Linked DNA regions of Homo sapiens. The protein of the gene in region 1 purifies or fractionates together with the protein of each later gene. This does not show direct contact. Each region holds a gene or a part of one and is shown on either strand. Other genes may lie near its edges. The genes, in order: PRKAB1, CBR1, TRMT44 and HEATR6.

Region 1 (4,031 bases):
CATCACTAGCCATCTTCTCTGATGGAGACTGCTGCTGGGAATAGACAAGCTGAGAGTGGCCCAGGGGGCTGGGAATATGAGAATGTCAGGACCCCTCTGTCCAAGGTAGCACTAAGCTCTAATGTAAACTGTGGTTACAGTTGTCACTACTAAAGGGTTAACATTTATTTTGCCCCAAACTAATCTTAAGTGCTTTTCGTGTATTCTTATTCAAGCCTCACAACAACCATGTGAAGTAGGTGCAATTATTACCCCCATTTTAGGGATGGGGAAACTGAGGCACAGAGCAGTAGGGAGAACACTTAAAATCTACTGTCTTAGAGATTTTCAAGAATACATTGTTACTAATAGTCACCGTGTTGTACAGTGGATCTCTTGAACGTATTCCTCCTGTCTAACTGAAATGTTGTATTCTTTGACCAGCATCTCCCTACCCCCACCACTCCTAGCCGCTGGCAACCACCACTCTACTCTCTACTTCTGTGAGTTCGACTTTCTTGGATTCCACATAAGTGACATCACATGGGATTTGTCTTTCTGTGCCTGGCTCATTTCACTTAATGTCCTCCAGGTTTATCCATGCTGTCACAGATGACAAGATTCCTTTTGTAAGGCTCAGCAGCACTGCATTGTGTATCAGTACCTCATTTCTTTATCCATTCATCCATTGTGGACACCTACGTTGATTCCACGTCTTGGCTATTATGAATAGAGCTGCAGTGAACGTGGGAGTACAGATATCTCGACATGCTGATTTCATTTCCTTGGAGTATCTACCCTGTAGTGGGATTGCTAGACCATGTGGTAATTTTAGTTATAACTTTTTAGGAACCTTCATGCCATTTTCCATAATGGTTGTACTAATTTACATGCCCATCAGCAGTGCACTAAAAGTAGCTTTTAAGTGTTCTCACCACAAAAACATGGTAAGCATGTTCTGCGTGTGTTGATGAGCTTGATTTAGCCATTCCACAATGTGTCCATATTTCAAAACAACATATTGTACATGGTAAATATACATAATTTTATCTGTCAATCTTTGAAATTGATTAATTTTTTAAAAACCCCTCTTAGGCTCACACAGCAACTGGCTGAGCCAGCAGTCACATCAGGCTTGGCTGGTGCCAGATCCTTGGTAGTTGGTGCTCTCAGCAGCCACCCTGAATGGCCTCCCAGCGGGAGCTTGCTGAGTATTTGTTGACACAATGATTGGCCCAGCCTCTGGGATCCTAAGCCTACAGCAGTTGTTCTACACTTTTTTCCATTTGAATTGCATTTATAACAGTTGGGGGTATACAATGAAAAAATAAATCCCGATTTCTGGCTTCTCTTAAAACATAGGAAGGTGCGGCGGGCAGCTCTGAGTGCCAGCCCGGTGGCAGATTTTCCAGAGTAGTGGTGTCTTGCCCAGGTATCCGTTTCATTCTTCAGGTTCATTGAGTCTTACAGATACAAGTTTTGAATCCATTGCTCAGGAGCGTTTAGTGCAGATGGTCTCTTCCTGTGTTCTCTGAAAGTGCTGTTAATAGCTGCTTTCTTCCTGCCCCACCCTCCATAAGAGGACAGGGCCGTGGCCCACACTTGAAAGAGGCCGGGGTAAATGCCTGGCCAGAGACACACACCGATGCCTCCAGCAGGCATGCAGGGAGCTCCCTTCAGGTCAGAAGGCGTGACCTTCATCTCACCTGTCGTCTTGGACAAGCCCTTGCGCTGCCTGATTTGGGAAGAGAGGTCGGCCTGAGCGCTGCCTCCTGTCCTTTGATATCTGGCACTGGGAAGTAAAGGGGAGAATCTTGGTTTCCAAATCCCAAATGCTCACCGCTGCCTTTGTTCCCTCACAGTGTGATCCAGCTTTGCTTCCTGAGCCCAATCACGTCATGCTGAACCACCTATACGCGCTGTCTATCAAGGTAATGACATGTCTGTCCCCATGAGAGCTGTGTTGCCCAGTGTGTGCTCTGAGGACCCCCAGCAGTGGAATGACCTGGCGGGACTGACTTAAAGGGCAGCTTCCAGGGTCTGGCACAGGCCATCAGGCTCAGGTTCTGAAGCTGGCCCGGGAATTTGTGGTTTTATGAAGCCCTTAATGATTCTCATGTCCTCTGAGGCTTGAGCCCCTTAGTCCAGCCTTTGATCATTTCCACCTTGTTCCTTAGGATGGAGTGATGGTGCTCAGCGCAACCCACCGGTACAAGAAGAAGTACGTCACCACCTTGTTATACAAGCCCATATGAAGAGCTGGGGGCGGATGGTGGCCCAGGAGACAGCACACCACCAGGCTCCACACGTGCATGCTTTCCCCAAGAGGGAATGGACTGTACATTGCTCATTTCACACTCTTCAGAAGACATTTCATACCTGCCCTGGTCCTGCTTGAAGGTTTGTCCAGGCAGAGCAGCTCCTGCAGCGCCTCGGTCTGTGACAGTCCTCCTAGCACCCCCATGGCTTTGAGCCTCGGGGACTCATCAAGTCCAAGAAAAGAGGGAGGGGTGGCAGAGGATCTGCAGCCCTGGCCCCGCGGTGCATGAGGCTGGGTGCAGTTCTAAACCTACATTCTCGATTTTTCTTAAGCCAAAAATGAATGCTAACTCCTTTGCCAGTAAAATTCTGGGAAACAGGGACTGAGGCCACACATCATTTCCAGTCATCTGTGTGTTTTTAAGGCCAGCCACTTGTCCCTGTTGAGGCCTGGCTATGGAACTAAATACAGTGTTGGTCTTGCCTGTCCTTCAAAATCAACAACAGATTGTCTCTCGGCTCCAGGGAGGTGTCATTTCTATAGAAATTAGAAGCTTTCTGATTTCTAGATGAGGTTTTACAATTGTTTCTTACAGTCATGTGCACTAAGTACTCTTTTTGTAAGCAGAGGTGGCTGGCTCTGCAGCCTTAAGGCCATTTTTTAAGTCACCACGTCTAGAAGTCACATGAACTCTGCTCAGCAATAATCTGTTCTCAGAACAGACTTTTCAACCTGCTGCCGGATTTCTCCATTCAGCTGGATGATCCTCAGGACTGACCAGTTAGCTGGCAGGTTGTCCAGCTTTTTATTCCAGTCATAATAGGTGACAGTGTTAACCGTGAAAACTTGAGAGGCACTCTGCCCTCTTCCCTATAAAATCACACAGCGTGATTTTACAAGGTCCCGTGGCACCTTGCTCAGGACCTCTGCCCCTAGTTAGCAAGACTGCAGCAGTTGCTGTTGCTTATTCTGAAAGGAATGTAGAACTTGACAGCAGCCTTCTGAGTCTGGGTCAGGAAGATGTCCTTTGGACCAAAGCAGACTTCTTTATACGCAGCTCAGTTTCCCGGGAGTCGCCACAGATGTACCCACTAGCCCAGGTTGCTGTGAGTCAGCGGAAGCTCCCGTTATGCCCTTTGCTCCTGGTGGGAGAGGGAGGAGTGAGCTCCCTGGGTTCCAGTATTTACTTGGTATACCTGAGTTTGGGGGTACCCTTTTTTGTGACTTTTCAAAACAGTGAATTACTGTCACCTTGATGGACAAGTTTCAATAAAACTTTGTAAAAATAATTGGACATGTGCCTGGAGGAGCTCTGATTTTATTCAGTCCCTTGGAGAAGAGACTGGAACTCTTCGAGAGTTGCGTTTCAGTACCGTTCTTGTGGCTCTGAGCGGACAGGGCTACTCCAGCTGCCCAGGCCTGAGAACCAGTCCTGTGACTCACACCCATTCACACAGTTTGGAACCTTAAGGGACCCCTAAAACTGAGCCCCTCTGAACAGCTCAAGTCACAAGGGGAAGCTGAAGAGGGGTAACAGCAGAGGCTCCTGGCTTCGGCCAGTTGTTGGTGTCCCCAGGCCAGAGGGTTTGTTTCCTTTTGCTCCTAAACAAGCCCGGTGGGACAGCCTGGGATCGTGACCCTGGCGTGTGAGAGAGCAGGACGTTGTGGAGTCAGAGCTGTTTTCATCCACTAAAAGAGGCCGTGTCCCTCCTCCAAAAAGGTGGAAGGTTATGGGTGTTCCTTTAAGCCTTCTCAGGTATCAGGAAACATTTTAAATTTAGCAGAAAAGCAT
Region 2 (7,834 bases), on another chromosome or scaffold:
CCAGGAGTGTTTCTTGGCCAGGTGTGGTGGCTCACGCCTGTAATCCCAGCACTTTGGGAGGTGAAGGCAGGCGGATCACCTGAGGTCAGGAGTTCGAGACCAGCCTGGCCAACATGGCGAAACCCTTTGTCGACTAAAAATACAAAAAGTTAGCTGTGCGTGGTAGCACACGCTTGTAGTCCCAGCTACTCGAGAGGCTGAGGCAGGAGAATCTCTTGAAACTGGGAGGCAGAGATTGCAGTGAGCCGAGATCGCACCACTGTACTCCAGCCTGAGAGATAAGAGAGAAACTCCGTGTCAAAAAAAAAAAAAAAAGAAAGAATGTCTTTCTCAAGGACCTGAAAGCCATTCCTCTGAAATGTAATCATCAGAAATGATACGGCCTCTGTCTTTCAGTCTTTATAGTGGGAGAATAGAATCCCAACTTTGCTAATTGCCAGCTAACAGACACAGCTGGCCTAACCAACATTTCCACTGAGCAACCCTTGGCAATTTGTCATTTCCCTAACTCCTCCCACTTCCTGATCCTTCACTCTCCCTTTAAAAGGCACAGTCATCTCTGTACAAATGAAAGTTTGTTTCCACTGGACCCTCTTTCCTATTACAGGAGTTCATTATTGACTAAAATCTGTCCTTACCACCTTAGTGTCTGGCTTTATCTTTCACAGAATTCAGTAAATTGCTTGAGTTAAATAACTACTAAGCACCTAAGCCACAGATTGATTCCAGGTCTCAAAGTCCATGGTCTACCGCTGTAGAAAGGCTTATTGAATATCCTAAACAAGCATAAAATGCAAGAGGAACACAGCCAGTGTCAAGCAGATCCGTGAGGGTAACTAATCAAAGGAACGACCTGGAGAACCTCACAGTTCATAATTTAACAATATTATTTTCCAACATCTTTTCTTTTAATATATACCATGGAACTGTGTTTTGGGCTTTTTTGTTTTTGTTTTTGTTTTTAGATTCGGGGGTACATGTGCAGGTTTGTTACATCAGTGTATTGCCTGATGCTGAGGTTTGGGCATCTAATGCTCCCAAGTAGAAAACATAGTACCCAATAGTTCGTTTTTCAACCCTTACCCCCTCCCTCCCCCTTTTGGAATCCCCGGTGTTATTGTTACCATCTTTTGTGTCCCTGTGTACTCAAATGTTTAGCTCCCACTTATAAGGGAGAACATGCGTTATTTGGTTTTCTGTTTCTGCGTTTGCACAATAGCCTCCAGCTGCATCCATGTTGCTGCAAAGGAAATGATTCCATTCTTTTTTGTGGGAACTATGTTCTTTAGTTGCTTTAAACTAGTGGGTAGTAGTGCTCGTTTGGGCAGCACATATACTAAAACCGGAATGATACAGACAAGATTTAGCATGGTGCCTGGGCAAGGATGACATGCAAATTCATGAAGCGTTCCATTAAAAAAAAAACAGTGGGTAGTAAAGATATGAATTCATTCCACAGGTTAATTGATGTGATAAAATTCTTTATCTATATAGCATCCAATATAGTCTCAGACCTTTGATTCTCACAACTAAGGCATGTCTTCCAATTTAGCCAATAGCAGTAATAGCAGAGATCTGGAAACTCCATCTTTAAATTTCTGTTTTATTTCTTAAATTGTTCAGAATCCAGACAAGGTGCTACATATTGGAGGCTCTTCACACATACCACCAGAATCAAGACCCAGATGTAAGAGAGACAACAATACAAAACCATCCAAGTAGAGCTTAATTCACAGGCTTTAAATTATGCTTTTCAAAAACAAATTTTCAAAAAGTTTCCCATAGTCAAACCCATCAGACATTTATGATTCTTCCCCTATTTTTATGCTTATAAAAGAAAGCATTTTCCCCTACTGAAAATAAAACTTTTACTTTTGTTTTCTTTTAGTTGTTTTATGGATTCATTTATAAATCACTGTTTCTCTCTCTTCGGAAATTATTTAGTGTATGTTGTAAGGGATCTTTTTTCTTTCCAATCATTATGCCCTTTCCCCAGTGCTAATTTTGGAATAATTCTTTCCCTCACTAGTTGTTAAACCACCTTTATCATACAGTAAATTCTTGTTAATATATATTTTATATATTTTCCGGAGCATCCTGCCTAATGTACCTGTCAATTCTTATGTTGGTTCCAGTCCTAAAAAAATAAATCAGACTCAAACTCATGATTCATAGTCCTCATAGGATTTGCCTTTTGAAACAGCAGGACCCTCACCCTGTCCAAAGTTCCCTGTACACCATGTGCTATTGCTGACTGGCCCTCTTAATAAATTTAATCCATCCACTCTAACACTAACTCACACCAGCTACAGAAGACAGTAGCTAGTGCAGTGGAGAGAACCCAGCCAATGACAGACCCAACACGCACACACTGGGATAGGAAAGAAAATCCAAAACAGAGCTCTGAATTATCCTGAGTGGAAAAAAAAAAACCAAAAACAAAATACTACAAACTGTATGACTCCATCTATGTAACATTTTTGAAACAACAAACTTGTAGAAATGGTGAACAGATTAGTGGTTGCCATGAATTAGAGTTGGTTTGGGGAGTAACAGAGAGGTATGTTTGGTGATAAAAGTGCAACAGGAGGGCTCTTTGTGCTAATAGAAACATTTTCATTTAACTATAGTGGTGGATACACAAACCAACATTTGATAAAATTATATAGGACTAAATACATACACAAAGTACACATCAAACTGGGGAAATCTGAGTATGATTGGTGGACTGTTTTGTTGTCAATATCTTCACTGTGATGTTGTACTATACTTTTGCAATATGTTACTATTGAGTGAAACTGAGTAAAGGGTAAGGAATCTCTGTATTATTTCTTACAACTGCATGTGACTCTATAATTAGCTCGACAAAAATTTCAGTTGAAAAAAAGCAAGGGTCTTTCCTTGATTATTAACTTGTTTTAAAGCAACTGATTGGAAACCTACCTTGAAATTGCAATGTAATTGCAATCTATTTAAAGCAGTGGTGTTCAACAGACCTTTCTGCAAGGATGGAAATATCCTAAATCTGTACTGCCCAATACAGTGACCACTAACACATGCACATATTGAGCACTGGAGATGTGGCTAGTGCAACTAAAAAACTGAATTACAAATTTTGCTTAATTTGAATTTATGTTTAAATGGCCACCTGTGATAGTGGCAACCTATGGGACAGCACAGAAATGAAACTTGACCTTATTCCCAATTCCCTTGTAAGTAGGAAGGAGGAACACTCACTTTGAAACCATGCAATTGTCCCATAGGACAGATGTTTATGGTCTCTTTTTTTTTCCTTTTTTTTTTTTTTGAGAGGGAGTCACTCTGTTGCCCAGGCTGGAGTGCAGTGGCATGATCTCGGCTCGCTGCAACCTCCGCCTCTGGGGTTCAAGCAAGCAATTCTCTGCTTCAGCCTCCCAAGTAGCTGGGATTACAGGCGCCTGCCACCACACCCAGCTAATTTTTGTATTTTTTTTTTTTTTTTTTTTTTTTAGTAGAGATGGGGTTTCACCATCTTGGCCAGGCTGGTCTTGAACTCCTGACCTCATGATCCACCCACCTCAGCCTCCCAAAGTGCTGAGATTACAGGCGTGAGCCACCGCGCCAGGCCTGGTCTCTTTTGAATAAACAAATTGACCCTCCCAGTCTAAAAACTTGAGAAATTTACATTTGTCTTATCTGAGTTCCTTTCTCAGGGAACTAGCCATCAGTCCTCCCAGATAGCACCAAGGAACTGAAACTTATCGGATCACCACATCTGGAAAATCAGACACCAGACCCCTCACCTGCAACAATTGCCTGATGCCTGTTGACCCACTCCTCTTCATCTCTCCCTAACTCCTGCTATTTTCCCACATGCAGTTACATTTCTTCCCTGCTATATCCTAATTTTAATCAGTTGAGAAGATGGATTTGAGACTGATCTCTCCCCCCTAGGCTGTAGCACCCAAATAATGCCTTCTTCCCTGACAATAATGGGGTCTCAGTGACTGGCTTTCTGTGCTGTGAACCACCAGACCTAGACCAAACTCCTGGCATTTCTCTAACAATTTCCCACCACTGAACTAAGTTATAAATTCTGAGGATGGATCCCTGTTTCTTCATTTTAAGATGGGGATTAAAAGGTACATCCTAGAGTGTTATTGTCCGTGTAAAATAGGGCTGTGAAACCCCCTACACCTATGCACAGATAAACTGATGGCCCTGCAAATGCCCAGAGAAGTAACCTTATAAAGATTTAGTGAATGTTTCCCACCATTATTGGAAAATCTGGCTAAGTCAGTAGCTTTGTTTTCATATACTTAGGGGGAAAATCAACAAAAACTTGATGCCCTGTTATTTCCTTCCAGTTTCTTCTGCAACTCTAGCTCCAAAGACTGCAGTTCCTGCAGTATTTTTTTTTTTAGAACACCAGGAAAAAAAGAAAAAAAAACCATGCAAATGTACTATTTCTTCAAACACAACTAGGAATGATTGAACAGCTGGGAGAATATGAAGAAAACCCCTCAGAGAACCAAGGGCAAGCAGTGAGTTCAGATCTAGGCACATGGCCACTAGGAATGGTTCTTCACTGCCACGTGGGCAGCCAACAGCCAGTAGCTAGAGACCAGCCTCGGTCTTCGGCCTGCGGGTTCTGCAAAGTCAGGCTAGCTGGCTCTCCGCCTGCTCCGCACCCCGGCGAGGTTCCGGTGGGGAGGGGTAGGGATGGTTCAGCCCCGCCCCGCTAGGGCGGGGCCTGCGCCTGCGCGCTCAGCGGCCGGGCGTGTAACCCACGGGTGCGCGCCCACGACCGCCAGACTCGAGCAGTCTCTGGAACACGCTGCGGGGCTCCCGGGCCTGAGCCAGGTCTGTTCTCCACGCAGGTGTTCCGCGCGCCCCGTTCAGCCATGTCGTCCGGCATCCATGTAGCGCTGGTGACTGGAGGCAACAAGGGCATCGGCTTGGCCATCGTGCGCGACCTGTGCCGGCTGTTCTCGGGGGACGTGGTGCTCACGGCGCGGGACGTGACGCGGGGCCAGGCGGCCGTACAGCAGCTGCAGGCGGAGGGCCTGAGCCCGCGCTTCCACCAGCTGGACATCGACGATCTGCAGAGCATCCGCGCCCTGCGCGACTTCCTGCGCAAGGAGTACGGGGGCCTGGACGTGCTGGTCAACAACGCGGGCATCGCCTTCAAGGGTATGGGGAGGGGACGTGGCCTCCCCGAAGAAGAACCGATGCACTGGGGCTCCTGGCGTCTGCGGGGTCCATAACGCCTCCCTAGGGAGGAGAGGGAGGAGCTAGGAGATGCAGGGAGTGCAGAAACCTTGGAGAAAGTGAGAGTTTTCCAGCCAAAGGGAACTTTGTGTTTCCCTGGCTGGGACTCTTGGGGATCTTTTTCAGGTTTTCTGCAGTTTTTCTGAATTGAGCTTTAAGGCAACTGGATGGATTTTGAACTGATTTTAAAATAAACGACAAATTGCAAAAAGAAAAAATGGTTATGCCAAGATCCAGTGTGTGCACCCTTCATCCTCCTTCCCCCAATGGTGCCATCTTACAAAAATACTAGAACATGATCAAACCAGGAGATTGACATTGGCACAATACTGTAACCAGATACAGACTTACTTTAGGCAGAGGGCACTAAGTTTTTTTTTTTTTTTTTTTTTTTTTTTAGTATCATTGTATAGAATTTTACCCCATGGGTACAATGTATTAACTATGTTCTCTTTCTCTCCTAAAAGTTGCTGATCCCACACCCTTTCATATTCAAGCTGAAGTGACGATGAAAACAAATTTCTTTGGTACCCGAGATGTGTGCACAGAATTACTCCCTCTAATAAAACCCCAAGGTGAGTCTGATGGGAAACAGCGCACCTTCTCTTTGGGGCTTGATTTGGCCCCTGCTTGCCTGGGATTTCTCCTGCAGGCTCCTGCTTCCTCTCCATGCTGCACGTGCACTGACCTCTGTGCTTTTTCTCCTGCCAGCTGATATGTGCCATTTTGCCTCAGGACTTTGTCCTCACTTCTCCCACTCCCATGGCCATTCGTCCTCCCTGTCGCACTGGTCTTTGCACACCTGGCTGACTCTCATCCTTCAGGTCTTAGCTCAAACGTCTCCTGAGAGATGCTCTTTATTTGCTCCATTCCCCTCTGCGTGGGAGTCCATCCTGTACCCTTTCTCTGCTCTTTCAGAGAGATCTTATTCAGGCTGGTGGAGGCTTTACTACCACCAGTTCATTAGGCCCTTCTAATACCTGTCACCTGTCTGAAACACTCCTTAAGCTCCCAACCACATGGTTGTCTTGCTGCCTTTCCATCTCTTCCTGATGCCTTTCCCCACAATCTAAGATATTTCCAGAGGATCCCTATCCTTTTCCCTAAGTCGTTTGGGACACAGACCCCACCACCCACCCACCAGGATCCTGCAGGTCACCATGCCCCACCCCTCATAATCATTTACTAGGTCCTAGGAGTTGTGCCCACTGAGTTCCTCCTGAATCCGTCTCATTGCAGCTCTACAGCAGGCCCTCACCTGTCCCTCTGGACAATTGCAAACCCTCACAAGGCACCTCTGGTCTTGAGTCTTTTCCTCTTTTCCTTTCCCAGCATCCTGCGTACTGTCTGCATGGTCATGCCTCTCCCAAAATCCTTCAGGAGGAAAGTCCAAGCCCTTAGCATGGTTCACAGAGATGTCCATAATCTGCCGCTGCTTAACTCTGGGCCCATTTTAACTCCCCTTCAACGTGCTGAAGGTGCTGGACATGACTATCACATGTCTTTGGTTGTAAACTGCTGTGATAGTTACCCTAAGTAATGGGACAGGAGATGAACCCACCCATTAAATAACACAGCAATTAAGCAGCCACTTTTAGAAAAATTTAAATGTGTGGCTTCGAGTTGGGTACTTGCATGTACAGCTTACTCTCAGCTTTTATCCTGTTTCCCTGTCCTGTCGTCCTGTTAAGTTGTGCTACTTCTAAGGCTCTGGTTCACCAGGACCTCAAAGGGCAGCTCTTCCAAATCTCACCTGACTCTACTCAGCCAAAATTCGAAGGCAGGAATGAACTTCTTCATGCAACTACCACCACACTTTCTATGCGTATTCCTCTTAGAACTCATACCAGTAACTGTCTCTCATATGAAAATTTTCTGCTCCAAAATCCCTGCAAATTTGGCATTCACCTCTCTACGGGATTGTTGCACACCTTTCTACATAATGCTTTGTGGTGTATCTTAGGGAGAGTGGTGAACGTATCTAGCATCATGAGCGTCAGAGCCCTTAAAAGCTGCAGCCCAGAGCTGCAGCAGAAGTTCCGCAGTGAGACCATCACTGAGGAGGAGCTGGTGGGGCTCATGAACAAGTTTGTGGAGGATACAAAGAAGGGAGTGCACCAGAAGGAGGGCTGGCCCAGCAGCGCATACGGGGTGACGAAGATTGGCGTCACCGTTCTGTCCAGGATCCACGCCAGGAAACTGAGTGAGCAGAGGAAAGGGGACAAGATCCTCCTGAATGCCTGCTGCCCAGGGTGGGTGAGAACTGACATGGCGGGACCCAAGGCCACCAAGAGCCCAGAAGAAGGTGCAGAGACCCCTGTGTACTTGGCCCTTTTGCCCCCAGATGCTGAGGGTCCCCATGGACAATTTGTTTCAGAGAAGAGAGTTGAACAGTGGTGAGCTGGGCTCACAGCTCCATCCATGGGCCCCATTTTGTACCTTGTCCTGAGTTGGTCCAAAGGGCATTTACAATGTCATAAATATCCTTATATAAGAAAAAAAATGATCTCTTATCAATTAGCACTCACTAATGTACTACTAATTGAGCAACCTACGCACTCAGTTGACTACGTAAATCTGTCAG
Region 3 (7,000 bases), on another chromosome or scaffold:
GGTGAAACCCCGTCTCTACTAAAAATACAAAAAATTAGCCAGGCGTAGTGGCAGGTGCCTGTAATCCCAGCTACTCAGGAGACTGAGGCAGAAGAATGACGTGAACCCGGTGAGTGGAGGTTGCAGTGAACCAAGATTGTGCCACTGCATTCCAGCCTGGGCAGCAGACGGGGACTCAGTCTAAAAAAAAAAAAAAGGAATGTGACTAAGAAATCTTAACTGTTAGTAGCAGGTGACAGGATGACATAGTGGTTAAGAACTTGACTTCTTTAGTTAAAGAACAGAATTCAGTTTGAGGCTATGTGGATTTGAGACAGATTACTTAATCTGTTGAACGCCTGGTTTTCTCATCTAGAACAGAGGTTTCAGTCGGGGCAGTTTTGATCCTCAGAAGTTTGTCATTCAAACATCACATGTTCTCACTTATTTATGGGGTTTAAAAATCAAAACAATGGAACTCGTGGACATAGAGAGTGGAAGGATGGTTACCAGAGGGTGGGAAGGGGAGTGGAGGGTTGGGGGAGAGGTGGGATGGTTAAAGTGTACAAAAAAAATAGAATATGAATAACACCTAGTATATGATAGTCTAACAGGGGGATTATAATGAATAATAACTTAATTGTACTTTTTTTTTTTTTTTGAGAGTAGTCTCGCTCTGTGGCCCAGGCTAGAGTGCAGTGGTGTGATTTCAGCTCACTGCAACCTCCGCCTCCTGGGTTCGAGCGATTCTCCTAACTTAGCCTCCCAAGCAGCTGGGATTACAGGCATGTGCCACGACGCCCAGCTAATTTTTGTATTTTTCGTAGAGATGGGGTTTCACCATGTTGGCCAGACTGGTCTCCTACTCCTGACCTCACGTGATCCGCCTGCCTTGGCCTCCCAAAGTGCCGGGGTTACGGGCGTGAGCCACCTCTCCCGGCCACTATTGTACATTTTTAAATAACGAAAAGAGTGTAATTGGATTGTTTGTAACACAAAGGATAAATGTTTGAGGGGATGGATGCCCCATTCTCCATGATGTGATTAGTTCACATTGCATGCCTGGATCAAAACATTTCATGTACCCTGTAAATATATATACCTGCTATGTACCCACAAAAATGAAAAATTTAAAAATTTTAAAAATCGAAATTTATCATTGTGTAGCGACAACAGTGACAGCAGATTTGGGGTTGCCACACTGGGCAGGGAGGGAGAGGATGCTGCTGGCATCTAGTGGGTAGGGGCCAGGGCTTCTTATAAACATGCTACAGTGCACGGGACAACTCCCAACAATAAGGAGTTATCCAGCCACACATGCCAGTGACACTGAGGCTAAGAAACCCTGATCCAGAGGATGGTGAAAATAATACTGGATGATAAAGTTGTGAGCTTTATTTTACTTTATTTATTTTTTGTATAAATAGGGTCTTACTATGTTTCTTAGTCTGGTCTCTAACTCCTGGTTTCAAGTGAGCCTCGCACCTTGGCCTTCCAAAGTGCTGGGACAACAGGCATGGGCCATCACGCCTGGTCCTGTTGCAGTTTTTAAATGAGATAATTCATGGAAAGAATGATGCATTGTGTCAGTCCTCTTCTCTCTGGTCTCACTCACAGTAAAAGCTGTACTTCTATGAACTGCAAGGCCCTATGTGACCTGGGTGGGCCCTGTTACCCTTTGATTTCACCTTCTACCACTTGTCACCTTGTCCACGCCACTCACCTCCATTCCCCATGCACCTGAGCACACGCCTGCCCTAGGGCCTTTGCAATTGCTGCTCCTGTGTCTGAAACACTCTTCTTCCAGGTGCCCCATGGCACACTCCCTGACCTCCTTCGGCTCTCTGCTCAAATGTCACCTAACTAGGGAGGACTTCCCTGGCCACCCTGTATTCCATAGCAGTAGACTCTGATTGTTAGAGTTTTCTCGGCCCCACACTGCTTGCTTTCCATCTGAATCCACTTAGCCCCTTCAGCCTCTGCTTCCTTTTGGCAGGTCTTGTTCTTTCATCTGCTGTGGAAGGTGAACCACAGTTGTGCATATTTGGCCTGTGAAGTGTATATTCCTCTTTAACAGAGTTTGCAATTTTTTTTTAATATCAAAGGTAAACACGATTGATTTTAGAGATAGAACTTTATACAACCAAACCTTAAGTATCCACACAAACTGACAGAATGCTGTAAATTTAGCTTAGGAATATGCCACTCTGCTTATATTTTAATGGGAAGGTGACTGTGAAGTCCGTACATGCAGCAAGGGCTCCACACAACATAAAGCGGTTGTTAGGAAGGCCTGGACTGATATCCGCTTTCCTGAACTGGCCTCTGATGGCTGAGCAGTGTTCTGTGCCTTGCTCACACTCGAAGATCATGGTCAGGCTGTGGCAGACACTCAGTTAGGGCAGAGGTCCCCTGTTTTCTCTGATTGTAGCTCTCAAGTTCCAATAGAGTCCACATTGGCTGGCTCTTCCCTCAGGTCCTGGCTCATGCATCTCTCAACAGATACTTGCAGAGAATGGCTGCTGTATGCCTGGCACATTCTAGGCTGTGGGCTGTAGCAGTGAATGAAAGGCAAAAGTTCCTCTCCTGGAGTGCCATTGTGAATAGAGTGCTGGGGGATTGAAAGCATCGTGCTTGACTCATCCCTATTTTTAATACTGCTTCTGATGAGACGGTAGCTAGGCAGTTGTAATTTGTCCTTCTTCTCTTTTTCTTTCCAGATGTCCTCAATGGAACCATAACGTTTTTGCCTTTGGAAGAAGATGATGAGGGGAACCTAAAGGTTAAGATGAGCAATGTGTATCAAATTCAGCTCAGTCATAGCAAAGAAGAATGGTAAGAGCTGGACAGTGGACTCCTAGTTTTATGGTTTCCATTGAGGATTTCTTTAGGTAGCCAAAGGATTCTGGGTTGCCAGGGCTTAAGGTCCTGTCTCTGAGGTGGTTATGGTTTGTAGGAATGCAGTTGCTAGCTTATGTGCCCAGGCCATGTTGCTCTTCCTGTTGGTGCCTGGCCTCGAGTCTGGGTGGTCACAGCCTGGCTGGGGTTTCTGATCTCTACCTTCCCTGTGGCTGTGATGATCAGCAGCCCTTAGCATTAGCTCTGAAGTCAAACTCAAATTTCTTTATTGTTATTGTTATTATTATTATTGAGACAGTCTTACACTGTTGCCCAGGCTGGAGTGCATTGGTGCCATCGCATTTCACTGCAACCTCTACCTCCTGCATTTAAGTGATTCTCGTGCCTCAGTCTGCACAGTACAGGCACCCACCACCACACCCGGCTAATTTTTGTATTTTCAGTAGAGACGGGGTTTCGCCATGTTGGCCAGGCTGGTATCAAACTCCTGACCTCAGGTGATCCACCTGCCTTGGCCTCCCAAAGTGCTGAGATTTCAGGCATGAGCCACCAAGCCCAGCCTATTTTGTTATTTTTTATGACTTAGTAATGGGGAATAGGTGATGGTTCCTTCTGTAGTAAGTATTCAGTGATACTTATTATAAAGTAGCGGTTTAATAAGCACCCTTAATTCCATATGGTATTTGGGCCTGTATAGAAAGTATAAAATTTAATTCATACCGTTTGGTATTTTTAAAACGAAAAAGTCAGAGGAGGGGTGAATTCATTCATGACTTGTCAGCTGATATTTTCCTGAGTGCCACATCCAAGCTGTACTTTCCGAAACAGTCTTGGGGATAATGTCTGAGTAACTGGAATGAGTTTGCCCGGGGCTTCCTAGAAAGCAGAGGGATGTGGCGAGAAGAGCATGGGCTTCCCACTAGCAGTGTGGTCTTGGGGATGTGCTCTACCTCCTGGCCCTCTGTCTACTCACCTTGAAATGGGTTTAATCATTCCTGAGCCTCTGAGGAGGTGGCAGGGCTGGGCCTCACATGGATCTGTTGCAGCCTTCGTGCTTGAAAGGGGTGCTCAGGCCCTGTAGCATGAAGCCCTTTGAGAACCATCCAGAGGTTGCCCCGAGTTGTCAGGGGATCCTGCCCTGAGGTCCCTTCCTGCTAGCATGCCCTTGTTGGAGAGTGAGGAGTGAGAGCAGACACTAGGAGAAGCCATGCTTACCTGTGCCAGGCACCTCTGTGCTCGGCGATGCTGAACTGTGTGCCCATTAGCCAGAAAGTGGTGCCTGTCTTGGGGGCAGTGGGCACCTGGTGCAGGGCGGGGTTGCAGGAGGTGCTTGGCATGTGCCTGCTGCGTTGGAGTGACTTTCATTGCTCTTTGACAAGCTACTGAGGACGTGGCTGCTGCTCCCATCTTCCCAGGGTGGCATTTCTAGTCGGCATCGGAGTGACGTTCACTGCTCTTTAACGAGCTACTGAGGACGTGGCTGCTGCCCCCACCTTCCCAGGGTGGCATTTCTAGTCATAGCCTCACCGGGCCGCTATTCCTTGCAGTCTCTGGGCACAGGTCACACTTCAGGGGCCAGATGTACTGCCTTCTGAGTTGAACACAAATGAGGGGCTCCACTGTCGATGTGCGTGCTTCTTCGCAGCTGGATTCATTTTCGGCAACATTTGTTGTGTGCCCAGCATGTGTTAGGGCTGGCACGCAGCGGGAAGTGAGTCTCCTGGGGCAGTGGAGAATATCTGCTCCCATACTAGGTGGTGTAGGGAGGAAAACTCAGCCAAGCAGGACTGTGTCCCCTCAATAGAAACGGCAGAGTGTGGCCGAGGTATGTGGGAAGGCCTCTGAGAAGGGACATGGAAGAGAGGCGGATGAAGGAGGAGGCCGTATGGACCTCTGGGGGACCCTGGGGAAGAGCATGAGGCCCAGGGAAGAGCGAGGAACGCCCCTTGGGCAGAATCTCTGCAGCGCGCAGGGGCCACCAAAGTTAGTGTCAGGCCCAGCAGGAACGCTTCTGGACTGAGCAGGACAGACCTCACAGTCCCGAGCAGGGAGCTGGGCCAGGGGAAAGGTTCAGACCCACTTTGGGGTTGACTCTCTGGAGAATCTTCTGGAAGTGACTTGTGTCCCTCTAATGCACCGTGGTGGCAGAAAACCTGGAAACCACAGCTCTCACCAGACGGACCACTTGCCATTGTCCCCTCCAGTGGGGCCATGCTGCTGCCGCGCCCTCAGCACACTTGTGAGGCCCTCCGGCTCTGCCCCGCTCACCCAGTGGCTGGGATCTGCTTGTTCTTAGGAATGTCCGTTGAATGTCACTTTTATCGTAGCTTTCTCTCATCTGCCCAGCAAACTTAATGCCCTCCCCTTCCCTGTGCTGCCCCAAACGCAGCCCTTGGACAGTGTATTGTTATCTGGGTTTGTATCTGTCCCGCCAGTCCTCCCAAGGATTGTGAGCTTTTCCTCATTTATTGAATGCATCCATGAACAGTGCCTGCTATGTGTCAGCACTGCTGGGACCTGGGGGCGGAGCAGTGAGCAAGACAGACAGAAGCCCCCCACTGTCATGAACCTTCTGATGGCAGAAGACATGTGAAAGACAAAATAAGCCGGCAAAATGCACAGCAGCCTTTATCTCTGTGGCTGAGCACTTCGCCTTCTGGCAAGTAGCTATTCGGTGAGCCAGTATACTCATTTGAGTTGCACCTGTGAAAATGGTAAAGAATAGAAATGTTAGGAAAATCCTTGGACGCTTAGACTCTGGCTCCTTGTGCATGAAGCAGCAGGAGAGAGGCCTTTATTTGTTCAGCCGCCTCAGGGGCTTCGCAGTGTGTAAATATATCCTTAACAAAGTTTGCAAGAAAAGAGGGATTCTCTGTGCTTTTTACATGTTTTTCTCTATTAGATGAAAGTTCTGTAACTAGTTCTAGTTCGTTTTATGTTTTTGGTAATATAGATGTCTTAGCTTCTGTTTTCTTCATTAGGTAAATAAATAGATAATTTTAAAATAAGAATTGAACATATCTGTGCTTATTCATATTTCTCTTATTTTTAAAGGTTCATATCTGTTTTAATTTTCTGTCCAGAAAGATGGCATTCAGATGGAATCGTGTATCCCAAACCCACGTGGCTTGGAGAAGAGTTGCTGGCCAAGTTGGCCAAGTGGTCTGTAGAGAACAAGAAGAGTGACTTTAAAAGCACCCTTTCCCTCATCTCCATTATGAAGTATAGCAAGGCTTACCAGGAACTTAAAGAGAAGTATAAGGAAATGGTTAAGGTAATTCTGGTGGAGAATATCTGATTTTTCCCCCTTCATGATTTTCTTTTCTTTTCTTTTCTTTTTTTTTTTTTTTTTTTTTTTTTGCGACAGTCTTGTTCTGTCACCCCCCCAAAAAAAAGGGCCAGAGTGAAGTGGTGTGATCTTGGCTCACTGCAACCTCTGCCTCCCGGGTTCAAGAGATTCTCCTGCCTCAGCCTCTGGACTAGCTGGGACTACAGGAACATGCCACCACGCCTGGCTAATTTTTTGTATTTTTATTAGAGATGAGGTTTCACCATGTTGCCCAGACTGGTCTTGGCCTCCCAAAGTGCTAAGATTACAGGTGTGAGCCACCGTGTCCAGCTCACCCTTAATTTACATGAGGTAAAATAATCAAACTCTTCCAGGTAAAATTGTTTTTCCTGTTGCAGGCTGTACTTTGACATACTTAGGGGTGCACACAACAAAAACATAGACAGATATATAATGGAAAAGGATTGATCTTTACTTGTATATTATTTGTTTTCAAGAGACCTAAAGGGAAATATTTAATTGAAAAGTAATGGAACCTTGAAAAAAAAAATGGCTAAATTACCATAATTCTTTGTATAAACTTAAATATATTTTAAGAAAATATGTGAAAAGTTAAAATACAAAAGAGCAGTTCCCAAAAGGAGATACATTTCATAATAACATGTGCTTAAACTTTCTATCTAAGATGTAAAAACAGTATAACAAGAAACATCTGTGTTGCGGGAAGTCAGGGACCCCGAATTGGGGGCGGGTTCCCCCAATACATCTGTGTGTTTATGCCCAGCTTAAGGCAGAAGGCATTGCTGGTAGAGTCAAAGCTACTTACTATTCTTCCTAGTTCCCATCTTCCTCCCCGTCCTAGGAGTAACCACA
Region 4 (7,044 bases), on another chromosome or scaffold:
TTTTGGAACATTAGTTCATTTCTTTCCATTCGATTTTTAATTTCATTCAGTTTGTGAGCTGTTGGAATTGTGATTTTTAATTGTCTTCTAAAGAAATGAAGGTTTAGCATAAGATCTATCTTGTTGAGTTCGGACGAGCCTCTAGTAGGGATTGGCCAGCTGTGGCCCGTAGGGCAAATCTGGCCCACCACCTGTTTTTGTACAGCCTGTTAGCTAAGAATGGTTTTTACACTTTTAAATGGTTTTAAAATAAAACAATAATATCTCGTGATATGTGAAAATTATATGGAATTCAGATTGCATTGTCCGTAAATCAAGTCTTTTTGGAACGCAACCACGTTTATTCCTTTACATGTCTATGCTACAATCACAGAGTTGGGTGGTTGTGACAGAAACTGGCCCACAAAGTCTAAAATATAAAATGTTTACTGCTGGCTCTTTACAGAAAAGTTTGCCAGCCCCTGATCTAAGTCCTTTTTGGATCAGCTGACTTGTGTTCATGCTCTCGCTCTCTCGTTTTTTCACACATATACACACGGTTTCCTAATACATTGTCAATTTCCCACCTTAGGGGATTATGCTTAATTCTGAAGTCTGATGCTACTGTACTTCAAATTTCTCTTCAGAGCAATAAGTCTAGATTTCTACGACTCCACTCTATAAAAGGCCTGCCTGGTGATTTATTACCTGGTTGTTTGGAGATAATATAATTGAAGGCTTTTGGGAAAACCTTTTTTGCTCCAAACTCAGATATGCTTCATATTGAGTAACTATTTAGGTTAGATTCTAGAATTGTAATGTTGGTTCCCTGCTTTTAAATTTTTTGACTGAAAATGTTAATTATCATTTTTGGATGAGCTGGCCTAAGAGAGTACAATATTATTCCGTATTAATAGTCCTATGCTTATTACCTATATCCCATTTTTGTAAAGTTGGGCTTTCTTTTCCTTTCTAATACTACAAAATCATCTGAGTACCAATTGAAAGTAATCTTTCAACCTTATAAAGAAAATCTTGGTGCCAGTGACACCTTTCCTAACAAATACAGCAGTCCATGACAAAGATGTTCTTTTTGTCCTTTCCATTCATAAGATTGTACTTAATGGTATTCCTTTTTTGAATTGTCAAATACTGTCACTGCAGGCAGTGTTATTTCCTGTACCTAAGACTGTTTCTGAAAGTTGGATCACTAATGATGTCTGCCAAGCAGTATGTACACAAAGTTCCTAAAGTCCTATTTAAGTTAACATTGAACACACATACTTCAGAGTGGAATATGAGGCATAATGTTCTCAGGAACTTTAATAGGAAACAGACTCTAGGCACATGTGTTTTTTCTACCCCATGGGCTGTTTAGTTCTAACTTTTCAGTTGGCATTCTGCTTGAATAAACCAGGCCTCTAATTCTTATTCTCATGCTTAGGATTTCAGATTTTTGTGCTATGGTGTAGCTTAGATTTATTTCTTACTGTAAAACACCTAACAGCAATGGGTTTCTAGATTTTTTTTTAGCCAGGTGTGGTGGCACACATGTAGTCCTAGCTACTTGGGAGGCTGACGTGGGAGGATTGCTTGAGCCCAGGAGTTTGAGGCTGCAGTGAGTTATGATTGCGCCACTGCACTGCAGCCTAGGTGACAGAGCGAGACTGTGTCTCTAAAATAAAAATAAAATAAAGATTTTTTTTTAGGTGTGGGACGCAAGTGGCCTAGTTTTTAGGAACTAACAGATAATCCCATTGCCTTTATTCTTCCAATTAAAATGATTGTAAATACTTTGAACATTAAATATGTATAGGAAGAAGGGAATCTGACTCCTAATTTTCAACTAATCAATGTGAATCATCCCGAAATTTCAGACACGTGCCTGTGCTCTGCAAGTTTTATCTGCCATCTTGGAAGGCTCAAAGCAGTTTCTTTCTGTTGCTGAAGATACCAGTGACCACAGAAGGGCTTTTACCCCCTTCTCCGTAATGATCGCTTGCAGCATTAGAGAGTTGCACAGATGTCTTTTGTTAGCTTTGGTGGCGGAGTCATCCTCACAGACCGTTACTCAGATAATTAAGGTAATGTACCAACTGTGGGTTCCAGAGCAGGCTTCTCTGTTTTAATTTTGTATACTGTTTTACATAGCTCAAAAGTAACTTGACTTAAGAATATAACTAAGTAATAGTTTTATTAAAAATACACTATTTGGAAGTCTGTACCTACTCGTCTGATCTTATCTATAATCTCTGTATGTCCCAATAAATGATTTGCTAAAAATACTTCTTTATCTTTAGTTGTACCAATGAGAATACAAGTGTTATTAAAAAAAAGGGGGGCTAATTTTTAGTTGTGTGAAAACTTTTCTTTTTTAATTAAATGCTGCAAAATTTGTTCTATGCTGTGGTTTAATCAAGCCTTTTGATGAGCTACTTTTTGTGTTTTACAGTGCCTTGCAAATTTAGTATCAAATGCACCTTATGATCGTCTAAAACTCAGCCTGCTGACCAAAGTCTGGAACCAGATAAAGCCTTATATTCGCCACAAAGGTTTGTAGTGGCTTAAAACTGATGGCTTCTTTGTATCAGTCAGATGCAGACTATTAGTAAAAATATACAGATATAGATATATGTATATATTCAAAGCATTTTTACAACTCTTAAGAGATCTCTGCTTATTCTTCTCAACTTTTCAGGGGTATAAGCTGTTGCAAGAATTGACCCCTCAAGTCCCAGTGGAAGTGAGCTAGAGGATTAATTGTAAAGTTTGCCTGTTTAATGCTCAGGGCAGTGACCAGAGTATCCCTTTAGAATTAAGATTGAGCCAGGTGCAAGCAGCCCCCCTGAGGAGTATGATTGTTTATATCCCTTACACATAGGTAGAGGATGGATGGATGGTTAGATAGACAGACAGACGGACAGATAGATATTATCTACTTTTTGGAAAGAAAAACTGGAATACAAAATTTAACTTCTTTATTGTTATTTCCTATGAAGTTCAGATAAAACCCCAGAACTTCAAATCTTTACTAAGTGCAGTCTTATTATTTCCTCCTACACATAATGTATTTGTGCTATAAACACTTGCCTTTTGTAGATTTGCCTTTCTTTTGTTTGCAAGCTTTCAGATCGGACCACATTCTGATGAGTTCAGTTTTTCAGGCAGAATTGTAACAAGGAAGGAATAGTGGATGTTTTCTGTGACATAGTGGGAAGAGCATGGGACCTGAAGTCAATCCAAGGGTCTGGATCCCACTCCCATTTTTGCCATCTCATGGCCATGACCCTCTCTGAACCCTAATTTCTTCCTAACAGCAAGAATTATAACTACATCATAAGATTTTTATGAGGCTCAAATGAGATAATGAGATGTAACTAAGTCCAGTTCACTACTTACACTAATATGTAAAAAAGGGACCCAGAAAGATAAGTCTTACCCTAAGGTTTCCCATCACATTCATGGCAGAAATAAGATGAGAACAACCCCTGCTCATTCCACTGTACCAACTTTTCATTATCTGCATCTTCAGCTGAGGAGAGTGCACCATGCCTCAAAGTTTCCTTTCAAGTATCTGACTTTATCCTCAAGTAACTTTTTTTCATTAAAATGTTCAAACCCTGAAATTCTTAGGTATGAGCCTAACAAAATATGTACAAGATCTATATGAAGAAAACTGTGAAACTCTGATCAAATAAAGAACTAAATGAATGGACAGAGATTCCATATTCCTGGATAGGAAGGCTCAATATTGTGAAGATGTTACTTCTTCCCAACTTGATCTATAGATTCAGTGCAGTCTCAATCAAAATTCCAGCAAGTTATTTTGCAGATATCAATGAACTGATTCTGAAATATATATGGATATGCAAAAGACCTGGAATAGCCAACACAATATTGATAGAGAAGAACAAAACTGAAGGACTGACATTCCCTGACCTCAAAATCTACTATAAAACTACAGTAATTAAGACAGTGTGATACTGGCCAAGGAAGAGACAAACAGATCAATGGAACAGAATAGAGAGCCCAGAAATAGACCCACATAAATATAGTCAACTGATCTACAACAAAGGAGCAGATACTTTTCAACAATTGGTGCTGGAACAGCTGGACATCACATGCAAAAAAAAAAATGAGTCTAGACACAGACCTTTTAGCTTTTTAAAAATATTTCTTGTTAAAATCCGGGGTTCATTCAAGGTACATGCATTGCATTTAGTTATTATGTCACTGTAGTCTTTTTAAATGTAGAGTCCCCCCACCCATCTTTTTTATATCAAACTGACTTAGGAAAGAATCCAACCCAATTGTCTTATAGAATGTGAACTCTAAGCTCTGTCACCAAAGATAACAAAATAAATCACATTCTCAATTTGTCAGATTGTTTCTTTATGGTGTTAACTTACTCTCCTGTCCCATGTATTTCCAAACTGGAAATGAGGTCTAGAAGTTTGATTAGATTCAGGTTACACAAGGAACTACTAATTTTTAATTGCCTGCTGGGATAACTACCATCTTTACAGTAGTTGTTGCCATGATGATAAGTTCTTACTGCTTCCTTTGACAGATGTTAATGTTCGTGTGTCAAGTCTCACACTCTTGGGAGCTATAGTGTCCACCCACGCACCTTTACCTGAAGTCCAACTACTTCTGCAACAGCCATGTTCTTCTGGACTCGGTAATAGCAATTCAGCAACCCCTCACCTCAGCCCTCCTGATTGGTGGAAGAAAGCCCCTGCAGGACCCTCTCTGGAAGAAACGTCAGTTAGCTCACCTAAGGGGTCTTCAGAGCCCTGCTGGCTCATTCGACTCTGCATTTCCATTGTCGTACTGCCCAAGGAGGATTCCTGTTCAGGTAGCGATGCTGGCTCTGCAGCAGGAAGCACCTACGAACCATCCCCCATGCGACTGGAGGCCTTACAGGTAGGAGATTTCATTTCCTCATCTCTGAAATGGAAGTAACCATTCCTCCTTCAGAGTGACTGTGAGGAGCGAGCAGGTAAAACCAAGCCATATGTCAATTGTGTTCGTGGGAATTGTATTTTAGGTATGGGTGGTGTATTGTTTTGTTGTTGTTTTGTTTTGGGGAGGTGTTCTTTGGTTGTAAAATAGCAGATTCATTCCTTTTTGTTCTTTGATTGCAAATTATTTTAGTCCCTTCAGGTATTATATGACAAGTGGATGTAATAGATTGTAGAATAATTCTGAGTGAAATTGTACAGTTAATTTTTGATTTTTGCAACTTAAATGTTTAATTCTCTATAAGCTTTTCCTTGGTCTTGTACCTGCTTAGAGTAACAAAATAATTGTTCCTTCAAAGGAAGAAAACAATCCTAGATAAAAGAGTTTACTTTTTCTATACAAATATGATCTGAGACTAGGCCTGGTCCTGAGGTCTGCTGCTGATTAACTGGGCAGCATGAAGCATGTCCTTTCATCTTGTCAGGCTTAGGTTCTTTAGTTGTAAAATTCAGTTAATACCTACTTTAAAGAATAGTTCCAAGACTTAAATGAGATTCTGTTAATGAAAAGCAATCATATACTAAAGCACCATAAAACTATGATACAGTTTATTGATGTTAGTCACAAAATAAAGATTATGGTTCTTAATTTCATTCAACAGATTTCAGCCCCTGTTAAATGTAAGCGATTTCTGAAATATTGTAACACTTTTCTGGATATTGCAGCCTTGCACTCAGGTCTTAGAGGGTTAATTCCATGCTCTCTTTGCAGGTATTGACTCTTCTGGCAAGGGGCTACTTTTCAATGACTCAAGCCTACTTGATGGAGCTTGGAGAGGTGATTTGCAAGTGCATGGGGGAAGCAGATCCATCCATTCAGCTTCATGGAGCAAAGGTAATTTTCATCAAAACCACAATGCTTTTTCCTTCTCTTCACTTTATATCCTTCCTTTTCTTCACTTTATATCCTTCCTTTTCTTCACTTTATATTCTTCTGCCACATGTCCTTCAATTCTGAGATTTCTTAAAGAGATTTCAGGTAAGGAGGACATGCATTCTTCTGTTTTCGGCTCTTACATATAAACCCCACGCATTGACTCAGTAACAAATTAATAAGATATAGCTGTTGATTTCAGTCCTTGAAAGAATGCCTCTGTTAACAGTGACTGAAAAAAGAAAGAAAATTAGTTGCAAATTATGTTTCCCCTTGATTTGAGGCGATCTCCAAACTCAAGTGAAGGTGTTACTAAAGTGAAGGTGTTACTAGAGTGAAGGTGTCACTCGAGTGAAGGTGTTACTCGAGTGGAGGTGTTACTAGAGTGAAGGTGTTACTAGAGTGAAGGTGTTACTCAAGTGAAGTCATTCATTAGTTCTGATGCTCCACTTCGGTAATTCTTTTTCTTGGCAGCTTCTGGAAGAACTGGGCACAGGCTTAATACAGCAGTATAAACCAGACTCCACTGCAGCACCTGATCAGAGAGCACCAGTCTTCTTGGTAAATAAATGTCAATTCATAGTTTTCTTTTATTAATGCTTCAGTTGCAGTTTTATTTTGAAGCTCAGTGATAAATGGAGTAGATGATATGGTTTCTTCCAGTGTCAAAAATTATGTTTTATAATCCAGGAAAACATGAAACTAGTATAAATTGGTTTTATTTTACATTTCAGTTTATTTGCAGTTTAGTTTGTGGTAGGCTTATGTATAACATATAACCAGCAATAGTAAAACTAATATTTCTTTTGCATAAAACCTAGTTTTTTATGCAAAAGAGGTTTATCTGGCTCACAGTTCTGCAGGCTGTACAAAAAGCATGGTGCCAGCATCTACCTCTGAGGAAGCCCCAGGAAGCTTTAAATCCTGGTGGAAGGCAAAGGGGGAGCAGGCATGTCATATGGCAAGAGAGTAAGCAAGAGGGAGATGCCAGGCTCTTTTAAACAACCAGCTCTCGTATGAGCTCATAGAGTGAGAGTTCACTCATTACCACAAGGACAGCACCAAGCCATTCAAGAGGGATCCACCCCCATGACCCAAACACTTCCTATTAGGCCCACCTCCAGTGTTAGAGGTCACATTTCAGCATGAGGTTTGAGGAGGCACACA

Evidence for each region.
Region 2: the proteins of PRKAB1 (region 1) and CBR1 purify together in Homo sapiens (co-immunoprecipitation; 2 studies listed by BioGRID and IntAct, with this or other methods). This does not show direct contact.
Region 3: the proteins of PRKAB1 (region 1) and TRMT44 purify together in Homo sapiens (affinity purification with mass spectrometry; 2 studies listed by BioGRID and IntAct, with this or other methods). This does not show direct contact.
Region 4: the proteins of PRKAB1 (region 1) and HEATR6 purify together in Homo sapiens (affinity purification with mass spectrometry; 2 studies listed by BioGRID and IntAct, with this or other methods). This does not show direct contact.

What each region holds. Positions count from the first base shown.
Region 1 is NC_000012.12:119,678,092-119,682,122, forward strand, and holds the end of PRKAB1 (5'-AMP-activated protein kinase subunit beta-1), read left to right. Parts: intron 1-1,841; coding exon 1,842-1,910; intron 1,911-2,156; coding exon 2,157-2,234; 3' UTR 2,235-3,528; downstream 3,529-4,031. UniProt on the Homo sapiens protein: Non-catalytic subunit of AMP-activated protein kinase (AMPK), an energy sensor protein kinase that plays a key role in regulating cellular energy metabolism.
Region 2 is NC_000021.9:36,065,233-36,073,066, forward strand, and holds the start of CBR1 (carbonyl reductase [NADPH] 1), read left to right. Parts: upstream 1-4,791; 5' UTR 4,792-4,883; coding exon 4,884-5,172; exon of another isoform or gene 5,173-5,253; intron 5,254-5,717; coding exon 5,718-5,825; intron 5,826-6,582; coding exon of another isoform or gene 6,583-6,707; exon of another isoform or gene 6,708-7,213; coding exon 7,214-7,650; 3' UTR 7,651-7,834. UniProt on the Homo sapiens protein: NADPH-dependent reductase with broad substrate specificity. Catalyzes the reduction of a wide variety of carbonyl compounds including quinones, prostaglandins, menadione, plus various xenobiotics.
Region 3 is NC_000004.12:8,443,777-8,450,776, forward strand, and holds part of TRMT44 (probable tRNA (uracil-O(2)-)-methyltransferase), read left to right. Parts: intron 1-2,699; coding exon 2,700-2,814; intron 2,815-5,892; coding exon 5,893-6,112; intron 6,113-7,000. UniProt on the Homo sapiens protein: Probable adenosyl-L-methionine (AdoMet)-dependent tRNA (uracil-O(2)-)-methyltransferase.
Region 4 is NC_000017.11:60,054,909-60,061,952, reverse strand, and holds part of HEATR6 (HEAT repeat-containing protein 6), read left to right. Parts: intron 1-1,856; coding exon 1,857-2,063; intron 2,064-2,431; coding exon 2,432-2,531; intron 2,532-4,549; coding exon 4,550-4,905; intron 4,906-5,715; coding exon 5,716-5,838; intron 5,839-6,351; coding exon 6,352-6,438; intron 6,439-7,044. UniProt on the Homo sapiens protein: Amplification-dependent oncogene.